Homo sapiens: one gene and its partners. The protein of the gene in region 1 purifies or fractionates together with the protein of each later gene. This does not show direct contact. Each region holds a gene or a part of one and is shown in the gene's direction. Other genes may lie near its edges.

What was found.
Region 2: the proteins of URB1 (region 1) and LRRTM3 purify together in Homo sapiens (co-immunoprecipitation; one large-scale study listed by IntAct). This does not show direct contact.
Region 3: the proteins of URB1 (region 1) and RIC3 purify together in Homo sapiens (co-immunoprecipitation; one large-scale study listed by IntAct). This does not show direct contact.
Region 4: the proteins of URB1 (region 1) and DHX8 purify together in Homo sapiens (co-immunoprecipitation; one large-scale study listed by IntAct). This does not show direct contact.

Annotation. Positions count from the first base shown.
Region 1 is NC_000021.9:32,382,964-32,386,536, reverse strand, and holds part of URB1 (nucleolar pre-ribosomal-associated protein 1), read left to right. Parts: intron 1-852; coding exon 853-992; intron 993-2,072; coding exon 2,073-2,224; intron 2,225-2,982; coding exon 2,983-3,115; intron 3,116-3,573.
Region 2 is NC_000010.11:67,099,500-67,102,080, forward strand, and holds the end of LRRTM3 (leucine-rich repeat transmembrane neuronal protein 3 precursor), read left to right. Parts: 3' UTR 1-2,052; downstream 2,053-2,581. UniProt on the Homo sapiens protein: Exhibits a limited synaptogenic activity in vitro, restricted to excitatory presynaptic differentiation. May play a role in the development and maintenance of the vertebrate nervous system.
Region 3 is NC_000011.10:8,109,960-8,113,532, reverse strand, and holds part of RIC3 (protein RIC-3 isoform a precursor), read left to right. Parts: intron 1-2,395; coding exon 2,396-2,835; 3' UTR 2,836-3,573. UniProt on the Homo sapiens protein: Molecular chaperone which facilitates proper subunit assembly and surface trafficking of alpha-7 (CHRNA7) and alpha-8 (CHRNA8) nicotinic acetylcholine receptors.
Region 4 is NC_000017.11:43,518,403-43,521,975, forward strand, and holds part of DHX8 (ATP-dependent RNA helicase DHX8), read left to right. Parts: intron 1-1,727; coding exon 1,728-1,865; intron 1,866-2,348; coding exon 2,349-2,477; intron 2,478-2,966; coding exon 2,967-3,163; intron 3,164-3,573.

The DNA of each region.
Region 1 (3,573 bases):
TCATAATGTCCTTGTGGATTAATCTACTAGGGCAGCCATAACAAAATACCATAGACTGGGTGGCTTAAACAAGAGGAATTTATTTCCTCACAGTTCTGAAGGCCACGTCCGCGATCAAGGCATTGGCATAGTCACATCCTGGTAAGGGCACGTCCTGGCTTGCAGACAACTGCCCTCTTGCTGTGTCCTCACATGGCCTTTCCTCTATCCACATGCAGAGAGGGAGCTCTCTGATGTCTCCTTCTCCTCTAAGGACACCAGTCCTGTTAGATCAGGACCTCACCCTCATGAACTCACTTAACCTGAGTTATCTCCTAAAAGACTATATCTCCAAATACTGTCTTTTTAGGGCTTAGGGTTTCTTTCTTTCTTTTTTTTTTTTTTTCCTGAGACAGAGTCTTGCTCTGTCACCTAGGCTGGGGTGCAATGGCGCGATCTCGGCTCACTGTAACCTCTGCCTCCTGAGTTCACACAATTCTGCCTCAGCCTCCCAAGTAGCTGGGACTACAGATATGTGCCACCACACCTGGCTAATTTTTGTATTTTTAGTAGAGAGGGGGTTTCACCATGTTGGCCAGGCTGGTCTTGAACTCCTGACCTCAGGTGATCTGCCTGCCTTAGCCTCCCAAAGTGCTGGGATTACAGGCGTGAGCCACCGCGCCCGGCCGGGTTTAGGGTTTCAACATGAATTTTGGAGAGAAACAGTTAAGTTGATAGCATTCATAGTAGCTTCTGTGCAGTGTAGGTGGATCGGGGAAGGTCACAGAATAGGGAAAGCAGGTTGCAGTGGTGGCTGTGATTGTTTCTAAGAAGACTGACCTTGTTAATGTTTGAACATAACTTTTTTTTCAGGCTTGGAAGCGTTTGTGTCTGCTGCCAAGAAGCTACCACGAGAAGATGTGTATGATGTTGTGGAAGGGTATATAAAGATTTCTGTTGAGTGTGTCGAAATTTTCCAGCTCCTAAGTGGAGAGAAACGACCTGAAAGTGAAGTAAGTTGTTCCTTACATGGCTTGATGAAGAGAAGAAAAGTTAATGCTGCTGTTAAGTTTGATGAGGAAAAATGTGATAGAAATTTCCATTACCAACTTTCTATAGAAAATGATGCTTTGTCCCTGTGCTGTAGGAATGTATTCATTTTTTGCCTCCATGACCTTGAAAGCATTTTAGTGGAAAATTCTCACTTATTATTAACATTTGATGAATGACATCAGAAGGAAGGATCATAGATTCCTAATCAAAATATACTTGGTTTCGGTATGGTTTATTTAAACAAAAGGGAAACACATAAACATGTGGTGTCACAGACTCACAACACATAATGAATTGATGATTGTTTTCTGATTCCAAAGAGATTGAACATTGGGATATTGATGCGCCTGTTGAAATCTCAGGGTTATTGCTATAAGGATGTAGATCTGAATATCTCTAAAGGAATGAGACCCAGTCATTAAGAGAATTTTCTTCTCATTTGATTTTCTGTGATTGTAAACAAGCTGTTCTTTCTTTCTTTCTTTCTTTCTTTCTTTTCTTTTCTTTTCTTTTCTTTCATTTTTGAGACGGAGTCTCACTCTGTTGCCCAGGCTGGAGTGCAGTGGCGCAGTCTCGGCTCACTGCAAGCTCCGCATCCTGGGTTCATGCCATTCTCCTGCCTCAGCCTCCCAAGTAGCTGGGACTACAGGCGCCCGCCACCACGCCTGGCTAATTTTTTGTATTTTTAGTAGAGACGGGGTTTCACCGTGTTAGCTAGGATGGTTTCAATCTCCTGACCTCGTGATCTGCCCACCTCAGCCTCCCAAAGTGCTGGGATTACAGGCGTGAGCCACCACGCCTGGCCCTAACAAGCTGTTCTTTATTTTGCTGGACTATGGGAGTGGGGCTACATGCAGGGCATGGGTCCTGCAGATCAGCCTGCCAAGCTGTCGCGTTTGACTCAGGATCTGGGTGGGCGTCATCCTGCATGTTGAAGGCTTTAAGCCTACAAGTAACTATGGCTAAGACAAAAGGAGCATATATGTACAGGAGGAAAGGAAATGAGACGATTTCTAAGCGTTTCAATTCTGTCTTTGCAGACGATGTTAATATTTCAAGTTTTCGAGGCCATATTATTGCGGACAGCAAGTGATCTTTCACATTTCCATGTTGTGGGAACCAACATTGTGAAAAAGCTGATGAACAACCACATGAAGCTCATCTGTGAGTCCCTGTATGCCTCAGGTTACAGGTAGGCAGTCTGCCTTGGTGTGACAAAGGATGGGCCTTTGGGTTTGGTCTGCATTCAGCTCTCCGCAGGTGCATTTGGTCAGTACCTTTATGGCTAGAGGAGAGCTGAGCTATTTCCGAGGCCACAGTGACCGAGTCTCTGCCCCCTTCCTTTGTGGACCAGCCCTGGCTGTCCCTGACTCCTCTCTTACTTACCCCTTGTCCCTCTTGTCCTGCCTGCTACTGTCCTTGCTGCTATTATCTGTTGAGTGACTCCCTCTACTGGAATCCTATAGGTGCATGTGGCAGGGCCTTGCCTGTGTTATAAAATGCCACCTTCCCAGCACCTAGAACAGGGCCTTGCATGTAGCAGGTGCTCAGAAAACCATGGAATCTGGATAACCGCAGAACGGAAAGACAGCCAAGAGCTCGCATTCAGAGATGCCTTTGTGAAGAAGTCGTCCTCTGTATTCTGCAGTCACAGGGACTGAGGTGTGGTCTATTGATCACACAGTGGCTCACTCCAGAGAGAAATGTCCATCTTCTTCAAATCTTGTGTTTATATTGTTAATCCTACTTAGTTTTAATTTTTAGCGTTATTTTGAATCTTTATGCTTTTTTTTTTCTTTTTCCTTAAAAAAAGAGCATGTCTTTTTCCTTCTTTTTTTCTGGTTTGGGGATAGCAAATAACACAAGCAGCTTGCAGCTGGCTTTGTGGTGAGGCGGCTCTGTGCTTCTGCTGTTGTTGACGTGTCCGATTTCCTCTGGTTCCCTGTGCAGGTTGGCTCGCGCCTGCCTGAGCCTGATGACCGCCATGGTGACCCAGGGTCCGGAAGCTGCCAGGGACGTCTGCAGCCATTTTGATTTGAATAAAAAGACCCTGTACACCCTGGTGACCAAGAGGGATTCAAAGGTGAGGGGACCACAGTGTCTCGTGCCTTCCATGGGTCTCCTTCCCTTGGAGGACTGTAGTGGTTTTTCCTCCATTCTCTGCCCCTGATCCCCACACAGATGAAATGAGAGGTGTCTATGTAGAAAGGTGTGTGTCAGCAGCCACAGGATCTGTCTGTGAGGACAGGACTCGCTTCAGGCTGGCGATAGGGCCAGAACCTGGCAGAGCCTGAACAATGGGGATATCTGAGGAGGCTCCTGGGGGCTGAGTGGCACAGGGCCTTCCTGGTTGTGAGGATGACTTAGCTGTGGGCATCTCCTCTCCTGGTAAATGAAATACCCTCCATGTGCCCATGGCCCTGAAGCTTGTAGTGTGTGCCAGTCCTCTGTTCCTGTTCTGCCCACCTCGGAGAAAGCCCTTGAAGCTCTAAGCCAGTGACGTCCTCAGAGAGGACTTTTATGGCTTTTTAATAAGTGACT
Region 2 (2,581 bases), on another chromosome or scaffold:
TTTTATCTCTTCCAAAGAAGTTATATCTATAAAATCTAGTTTTATGCAGGTTTGTCACAGCAAATGTAAAAGCGGATTCAAGAAGAATGAACTTAAAAACTGTGGAGCAAATTTTTGTTGAAAATATATAAAGTCAGAAAGAAAAAAGATGTAAATGTTGGAAGAAGCAAATTCTATTACTAATTCAAATGAAACTAAATGTCAAACACAGTACTTGTGTCAACTATTTAGCATCCCAGATTTTGTAACATATTTTGCATAAATTATTTGCTCTTCAAAAATTTTTGTCATTTTAAATCTAATTTTAATCTTTATGTTTTCCATTTTCTAATTTCCTTGCAATGTATTATTCTTATTCTTAATTCTCTACATTGAAATTTGGCTTTACGTCGTTAGCAAATTTATAAAGGGTTATAAAGCTATGATTCGTGAGTCTAAAATCAAATGCAAAATTTTATTTATTATGTAAACCAAAATGTCATTTGCAAGTTTTCTCATTAGAAGTTATCCTTGCAAAGATAGAAAAAGAAGAATTAATTTGTGTAAACAAGCACAAATTAACATATTTGTTAATAAATAGGTTTATCTACTAATAAACCTATTTCTAGACACATTCAAATTGATAATGATTTTTAGAAATGTTAAGGTTCCAAGGAGTCTTACAAGTGTATGCCCTTGATTTCCTGAAGGAAACCACTTTCTTTCTTAAATATTTTAAATTCATCTAAAGTGAACGACTATAAATAGAAGCAATCACCTTGGAACCACAGCTCTGTGCAACCAAGGCCCTAAGCTACACCAAATACGCCAGGAATTTTGAGACTTCTCATCTTTAAATTCAACCAAAAGGGTCTTTAGCAAGAAAAAAAATGCTGGATGATGATTATTATTATTTTTGCTTAATTTTTATTTTGCCATGTCCAGGTTAAGGGTGAGGGTGGTGACAATCTGAAAGACTGTGTCTGGAATCTTTATCACATATTTCCAATTTATTTCAGTTTTTGTCTAAAACTTGCATTTCTAACCTATCTTTTCCAGCATTTGATAATCTCCCATTTCCTCCTTCTAACCCCCATTCCTATGTCTCCCTTCCTGTCTATTCCTCACCGATTTAAACAACTGAAATGTTTACTTATGTTTGGAGCTGAAAAATGGAAAGTTTCACCCAGCATGGTTACAATAACAGCCAGCAGCTGCAGCAAACCATAAAGTTATGCAGTGTTTTGAAGTTCACAAACCACATTTTACATAAATTATCTCATTTTGTCTTCATAACAACCCTATGAAGACACATTAATCTCAAAGAAATTGAGCTCTTACCCCAAAACACAGGGCCAATAATTGGTGCAGTTGAATTATTCTCAAAATTTACAGGCTGTTAGTCTTTCCACTGTACTAAAAGATTTCTTTCTCTGATCAGAGCAAGAGAACTTCCAGAGATAATGGATAGAATGAAAGAATATATATCTATATATATTTGACATGTTGTTTAGTAATCCCTATTTTAATTCAATTCTCCATCTGTAAAATATTAGCTAACTGAATTATTTCTGTGTTCTACTCTGGGCTCTCACATTAAAACTCTGTTCAAAAAGTTTAACAAGTCACATATTTCTTAACATACAAGTTCGTTTGTGAATGTGCAGAACAGATGCTCCCAAGATGTGGATGCATGTAGGCCCCGAGGTACAGACATAAAATCAAGGAAGCACAAGGAAAGAAACCCCAAGGAAAAAACCAAAGACCTTCTAAATTGAGACTGCATAATTATAAAAGAGATCCATAGTACAGGGTTGAACACATGTTCAACACTTTGTCAACTGAACACATGTTCAATTCGGAGCTAATTGGGAAGACTTACATAAAATTCTTTTTCTTTTTTTCTTTTGGCAAGATTTCTTCTTAAACCATGAAATTTTTTTTACTTGTAATAATAGAGAACAATTTTCTCCATTTTCTTATAAGAAAAATAAAATATAATTTATCCAAATTGATGTATAGAACCTAAAACATATGCTAACTTGCAAATAATATATTTTACTGATCAACTCATTTTTGTCAAGTCTCTATTTCTAGTCCCTCCTGAATGTTTTGGAAAACCACAAAACTATACAGATTAATACAAATTACATTTTTACAAGGAAAGAAAACATTCCCAAATTTAACACTCAAGACTAATCACATAATCCTATTTTGAACTCAGATCTCTCTGACTCCATTGACTGCTTAGAAATAGTAAAATCTTTTTGAAAAAAAAATTTTCTAAAATAAAACTATTGTATATGAGAGTAAAAATATATTTGTTTTTGATTGTTCCTGACTAGAAGACAGATATCATCTCTCAAACTAAACACTCAAAATAAGAAATTGAATTCATGAAAACCAATACCTGATGTGAATTGTTGTTATTCAACTGTATAAAAGAAATGCAGATGTTCTGGGTATGTCAGAGCATGCGAAAGAAGAAGTTATGGGACTGGCAGGTATTTGGCCTCAGGAGAAAAGGTGAAAATTTTCCAGAATAGATATAATAACATCTTATATTGGCACAGCTCTTAACAGTTTATAATGCTGGGTAATA
Region 3 (3,573 bases), on another chromosome or scaffold:
ACTGGGCTATGTGGGCAGACCTGGCTCTGGTTTTGTCTGGAACCTAGGGTGGGACTGGATTCTGGGGCCATAGTTGCTGGCCTGATGCTGGGTGGGCCCGGAGTCTGTATCTGCAGGGGCCAGCATGGAGGCTGGGTCTGTGGGTGCAGGCATTATGACTAGGGATGCAGAGCTGGACTGAGGCCTGGTGTTGGGGTAGGCTGAGAGCCTGAGTCTGGGTGACCTTCCCTCTTAAAGCAGATAGTCATGAAAATTCAAAGATAAGCTTTGTTCTAAGTGTGGGAAGACAGGGACATGCCAGCAAATGGACTTCTTTTAAGCATTCAGTGGCTGGGAGCTGACTAGCAAGCAGCTTCTCCAGATCCTATCCTTGACCATGGTGGCTGAGGGTCTTGGGTTAGCTAAGCTCCACTTTACCTAGCATTCCATCCGCAGTAAGTTAAGCCTTGGAATAAAGACTGCATTGGCAAAATTCTTAACATACTACTGTGAGTGCTGGTGAGGGTGTCATAAGATGGACAGTCTTTATATCACTGGTAGGATTGAAAATTTATACCACTCTTCTGGAAAGTAATTTGGCACAGTATAAAAAAGGCTTTTATAATGTCCATTCCCTTTGGTCTAGTTTTCATATTTATAGAAGTCTATCTTAAAGAACTAGGGAAGTGGACATAGATTTATATTAAGAAATCTTAACTTGTATACTACTTATAATAGGGGAAAATTGGAAAGAATCTAAATGCCCTAGAAAAGAGGACTAGTAAATCATGTCAGTTATGTAGCTATATGATGAGATATTTTGCAACCAACTTTCAAATGCCTAATGACATGGAGAGATGCTCATGATATAATGTTGAATTGAAAAACATCAGGATATAACCTTTTATACACAAATATGATCCTTCTTTTTAAAAAAGGGGAATAAGAAAATACATGTTGGCCGGGCGCGGTGGCTCATGCCTGTAATCCCAACAATTTGGAAGACCGAGGTGGGTGGATCACCTGAGGTCAGGAGTTTGAGACCAGCCTGGCCAACATAGTGAAACCCCGTCTCTGCTAAAAATACAAAAAATTAGCTAGGTGTGGTGGCATGCACCTGTAATCCCAGCTACTCAGGAGGCTGAGGCAGGAGAATCACTTGAATCGGGGAGGCAGAGGTTGCAGTGAACCGAGATTGCACCACTGCACTCCAGCCTGGGCAGGCGACAGAGCGAGACTCCGTCTCAAAAAAAAAAAAAGAAAAGAAAAGAAAAGAAAAGAAAATATATGTGTATATACGGTTAAAAAAAGACCAGAAAAAAGCAAATTATTATGAGTGAAGATATTATGGGTGATTTGTGTTTTCTTTTTTAAACTAGCCTGTATTTTTTTCAAATTTTCTACAAATGAGTCTGTATGATTTTTATAGTCAGAAAAAGCAGTAAATGTAGAAATGTCTCCACACACACCCTACATTGCACCAAAAAAGACTTATTTGTCACAGTTGTAGGCAAAAAATGGTTTACGTTAGGGTTGAATTTGCCAATTATCATAATGGGCAAATGGGTTCTGAATCCTCCAGCTTTCTGCACTGTATCGTGATTACGGCCGCTGGTGCCAGTACTGGTGTGTGAGCTCCAGCACGGCCCATCTGCTGCTCAGGCTTGCTTGGCGGACACAGATTTATTTCATTTAGTTTGGTAATTTGGCAACAGTTTCTCTTTTCTCATTATCCTAGCTGGGATTCAGTACCAGTGTTACTCATTTTGTTTGCCAGTTTGTTGTTTTCTTTTGTTCCATTTTGTGAAGATGAAGAAGCCAACAACAGGAATTCTGTCTTCCGAAAATGCAGTGCTTGTCCTTTCGGGATCTTGGGCATGCCTTGCTAAAGTGCTCTCTATTTTTGACACTTGCAAGCCATTTCAATTGTTTGGATAAATAGAAAGCTTCATGGTGTATTTTTCAAAGAGCTTAGCATTCCTTTCCTCTCCCCACTCCACCAAGGAAGATTTGGAAATTGTTCCAAATAGAAATTATAAACATTAGCCTGGAGCTGTGCTGTCTCTGTCTGGTTTTGATGCTTTTTTTGTTTTAACTAAAGGCTCATGTTGTTTGTTTAATCTTCATCAGTACTGCAAAAACACATGGTATAAGACTTAACTCTGCCCCAAGCACCCTACACATAAGAAGGGATTTTCATCTGAATTAGTTTGTATTTCAAAGAGCACTGGGATAGCCAGATTGCTAAGAATTTGCTCAAGTAAAACTTTAGAACTATTGGAATCTTAGAGATGTCTTGAATGGATTTGTTAGGATAGGATGGCTGCTGCCTGAGAATCCTCTTTGAACCTGACACTATTTTTTTTTTTTTTGAGGAGACATTCTTTGTAATACTTTGTGCTACTTTTCTCTCTAGGTTACCCTGAAGAGACTTACCCAATTTATGACCTTTCAGACTGTATCAAGCGTAGGCAAGAAACAATCTTGGTGGATTACCCTGACCCAAAAGAACTTTCTGCTGAAGAAATAGCTGAAAGAATGGGAATGATAGAAGAGGAAGAATCAGATCATTTGGGTTGGGAAAGTCTGCCCACTGACCCCAGAGCCCAGGAAGATAATTCTGTTACCTCGTGTGATCCAAAGCCAGAAACATGTTCCTGCTGTTTTCATGAAGACGAGGATCCTGCTGTCTTGGCAGAGAATGCTGGATTCAGTGCAGATAGCTACCCTGAGCAAGAGGAAACCACCAAAGAAGAGTGGTCCCAAGACTTTAAAGATGAAGGGTTGGGCATCAGCACCGATAAAGCATATACAGGCAGCATGCTGAGGAAGCGTAACCCCCAGGGTTTAGAGTGAAAACAGCCAGTCTGAAGTATCCATTACTCAAGTCCCAAGGTGACCTCTCTCTCCTCAGATTTCCTTCTTGGCCCTGTGCCCTGCACTTTCTTCACTGTGTTCAAGTGTCATAGCTATCAGGCCACTATCATGGATATCATGTATCCTTCCTGGTGCTCACACACCTGTCACCTTGTAAAACACGGACATTAGTGTGAACACAGGACAGCTTCGCTCTTTCTCTTCCTGCCTTTCCTCTATCAGAGAAGTTGATCCATTAAGTAATTATGTTTGGTCTATTGTAATTACAGATGGGACCACTCAGGGGCAAAGGTCTGACTCTTCCTGGTAGGTGTAACAGATAGTTCACCTGTGAACGAACATCAGCTTACAGATGATGAGGACTTAAGGTTGCAAGAATGAAGATTTCAGACTCCAAGATCCCTTATTCTTTGGGCCTTGAGCAGGTTAGTAGTCCCCTGGTGAGAAGAGAACATTTTGTTTGTGGGGCTAATGGGCCCAGAGGAGGGTAAGACTCTGCTGTCTAAGCTGAAGCCTCTTCCTCGCAGCGAGGGTCTTCCTAGGAACATTGATGCTGCCTCAGACATCCTCTTTTCTCCAGAGTAGGGAAGACTCCCACTGATCTGAGAATGAGCCCAGAGGCTTGTTTGGGGACTGTTTTACTCTGATACTACCTGGATATCTAGCTTCCTTTACCCCTGTTCTGCTTAACAGAACTGCCAAGCCCAGAAGTACCTT
Region 4 (3,573 bases), on another chromosome or scaffold:
ATTGCACTGTGGTGGTTTTGTGAACATAGTTTTTACCCAGTGTGAACTCTCTGAAAGCAGGGGCCATATCCTGGCCATCTTTATATCCCTCCCACCTAACATGGTATGAGATCCCTCATAGATATATAGTAGAAATGATGTATGCAAGAGACAGGACAAGTTGGTAGACTATATTATTATTATTATTATTGTAAAATACATAACAACATTTACTATTGTAAGCTTTTTAAAGTATACAATTCAGTGGCATTAAATACATTCAAGATGTTGTACAACCATCACCAACATCCATTTCCAGAACTTTTTCATTGTCCCAAACAGAAACTCTGTACCCATTAAACAGTAACTCCCCTTTCCCCCTTCCTCTATCCCTTGGTAACTACTCTTCTACTTTTTACCTCTCTGAATTTGTCTATTCTAGATAGCCTCATTTAAGTGGAATCATACAATATTCTTTTGTATCTGACCTGTTTCTCTTAGAATAATGTTTTCAAGATTTATTCATGTTATTTTCAAGGTTTATCCATTTATTTCATTCCTTTCTAAGGGTGAATAGTATTCTGTTGTATGTATATACCACATTTTGTTTATCCATTCATCAGCAGATGGACATTTGGATTGTTTCTACCTTTTGGCTATTATCAATAATGCTGCTGTGAACATTAGTGTGCAGGTATCTGTTTGAGTCTGCTTTCAGTTCTTTTGGATATATACCTAGAAGTGTAATTGCTGGGTCATGTGCTAATTCTGTATTTAGCCTATTAAGGAACCACCAAACTTTTCTACAGTGGCTGCAACATCTTACATTCCCACCAGCAATGCATGAGGTTTCTGATACCTCCCGTCCTCACTGACATTTGTTAGTTTCTGTTTTTTAAAAAAATTATAGCCATCCTAGTGGGTATGAAGTGATATTTCATTGTAGTTTTGATTTGCATTTCCCTAATTACTACTGATGTTGTGCATCTGTGCATCTTTTTATGTGCTTGTTGGCCATTTGTATATCTTCTTTGAAGAAATGTCTATTCAAGCTCTGTGCCTATTTTTTAAATTGAGTTGTTTGTCCTTTTGCTGTTGAGTTGTACATATTGTCATTTTGAGAGAGTGTTAGGGTTTTTTGTTTTTTTTTTTCTTGGAAGACGTTTTATCATGTTGCCTAGGCTGGTCTCAACTCCCGGACTCAAGCGATTCTCCCTCCTTGGCCTCCCAAACTGCTGAGATTACAGGTGTGAGCCACCATGCCCAACTGAGAGAATATTTTCAAAAAGTTTCCTGAGAAATTATGTGCTTTCCTTTGGGAGGCCGAGGCAGGCGGATCACTTGAGGTCAGGAGTTCAAGACCAGCCCAGCCAACATGGTAAAACGCCATCTCTACTGAAAATACAAAAATTAGCTGGGCATGATGGCGGGTGCCTATAATCCCAGCTACTTGGGATGCTGAGGCAGAAGAATCGCTTGAACGTAGGAGGTGGAGGTTGCAGTGAGCTGAGATTGGGCCACTGCACTCCAGCCTGGGTGACAGAGTGAGACTCTGTCTCAAGTATGTGCTTTCTATTATAATAGTCTGAGTTTTATGTGGCCCAGCCCTGGAAGTTACCGCCAGTCTCACCGGTGGCTTCCTAATTGCAATTGAAGAAATGGGAAATAAAGTAACAAGTAGCTTCCCCACATGCTGACACTGGCTAGACTGACCCTCTTATCACATGCCTTCTTCCTTTCTGTTCTAGGCCATGGGTATCAATGATCTGCTGTCCTTTGATTTCATGGATGCCCCACCTATGGAAACTTTGATCACAGCCATGGAGCAGCTGTACACACTGGGGGCCCTGGATGACGAGGGCCTGCTCACTCGCTTGGGCCGCCGGGTAAGGGACAGACTCAACTTCCTGTGCTTTTGGGAAGATTCCCTGGTCAGCCTTTCACATCCTTCGGTCTGTACAAAATCAGGCTGAGGCCGTGGATAAGCTTTGAGTAAAATTCTAAATGTTTGTTTTTAACCTGAATTTCTCCACTGTCACTTTAAACTGTTTCTTCTTTATACAAAAAGGTGTTCTGTTCATAATTTTGCCTGAGGATGTATTACTGAATGTAGCCTTAATTAGAAACGGCATCTGCAAAATTCTCATCTACCCCAACAGTAGTTATATGCTTGGTCACATACATCCCGTTGGAGTTTATTTGGGAAAAGAATAAACAACAGCATTCTTCTGATAGAGAAAGGCATCCCAAGGCATCATTATGCTTTGGGAAAATCTGTGTTGTTACCCACTCTGACCAAGGTCTTGCTCTGGTGAATCCAAATGTGTCTTCCACAGGGAAGCAGTTGTAGTCTTTTTTTGTCCCTCTAGATGGCAGAGTTCCCTCTGGAGCCAATGCTATGCAAAATGCTCATCATGTCTGTGCATCTGGGCTGCAGTGAGGAAATGCTGACCATTGTATCCATGCTGTCTGTGCAGAACGTCTTCTATAGGCCCAAGGTAGGAAGTTCAGATCCAAGTTTAGATGGGGGTGCCATGAAGTTGGGGTAGTTGGCCTGTTGCCATTCCAATGCTTGATGTGGACTTTTTTTTTTTTTTTTTTTTTTTTGAGATGGAGTCTCACTCTGTTGCCCAGGCTGGAGTGCAGTGGAATGATCTTGCAATCTCTACCTCCCGGGTTCAAGCAGTTCTCCTGCCTCAGCCTCCAGAGCAGCTGGGATTACAGGCGTGCGCCACCGTGTGCTGCTAATTTTTGTATTTTTAGTAGAGACAGGGTTGCACCATGTTGGCCAGGCTGGTCTCAAACTCCTGGCCTCAAGTGATCCTCTTGCCTCAGTTTCCCAAAATGCTGGGATTACAGGCCTGAGCCATCATGCCTAGCCTGATGTGGACACTTTTGATAGGGTCTTGTAGGGCTCCCTAGAATTGCTCCATGTTCAGTTAGTAGCTGTTGAGTCGGAAATGTTCCTCTGTCCCACTGCTTGGCAGGATAAACAAGCCCTTGCAGATCAGAAGAAGGCCAAATTCCACCAGACTGAAGGGGACCACCTCACCCTGCTAGCTGTGTACAACTCCTGGAAGAACAACAAGTTCTCCAACCCATGGTGCTATGAGAACTTTATCCAGGCTCGTTCCCTGCGCCGGGCCCAGGACATTCGCAAGCAGATGTTAGGCATAATGGACAGGTAAGCTGGAATCTGATGACTCTGCATGTTTGAGTTGAACCACCTTGAGTATCATGTCTTTTCATCTCTGTGTGTACCTATAAAGCTATAGGCACCTTTTCTCTTGCTCCTCACATAACCCTTTTCCTCCAGCTTTTCCATCTTTGTTATATTCCTTCTCCCCAAGTAAGGGTATGCCTGAGAATTACCTCAGATACCTAAGAGGAAGATTATCTGTTAGTTGTTGAAAAAAATGCTCTTTGTTTGCAACCCTCTGGAACATTATTACTGTGGAATTGAATACCTGTCTAAACAAAGTGTCTGTCTCTGAGTGCCTCCGTCTGCCCACTGTGTAGAGCTGCCTCTGTAGTACACTTAGGGCTGGAAGGAAGGTCCTGGTGACTACTCTGGGCACCCCAAGATGGATGTGT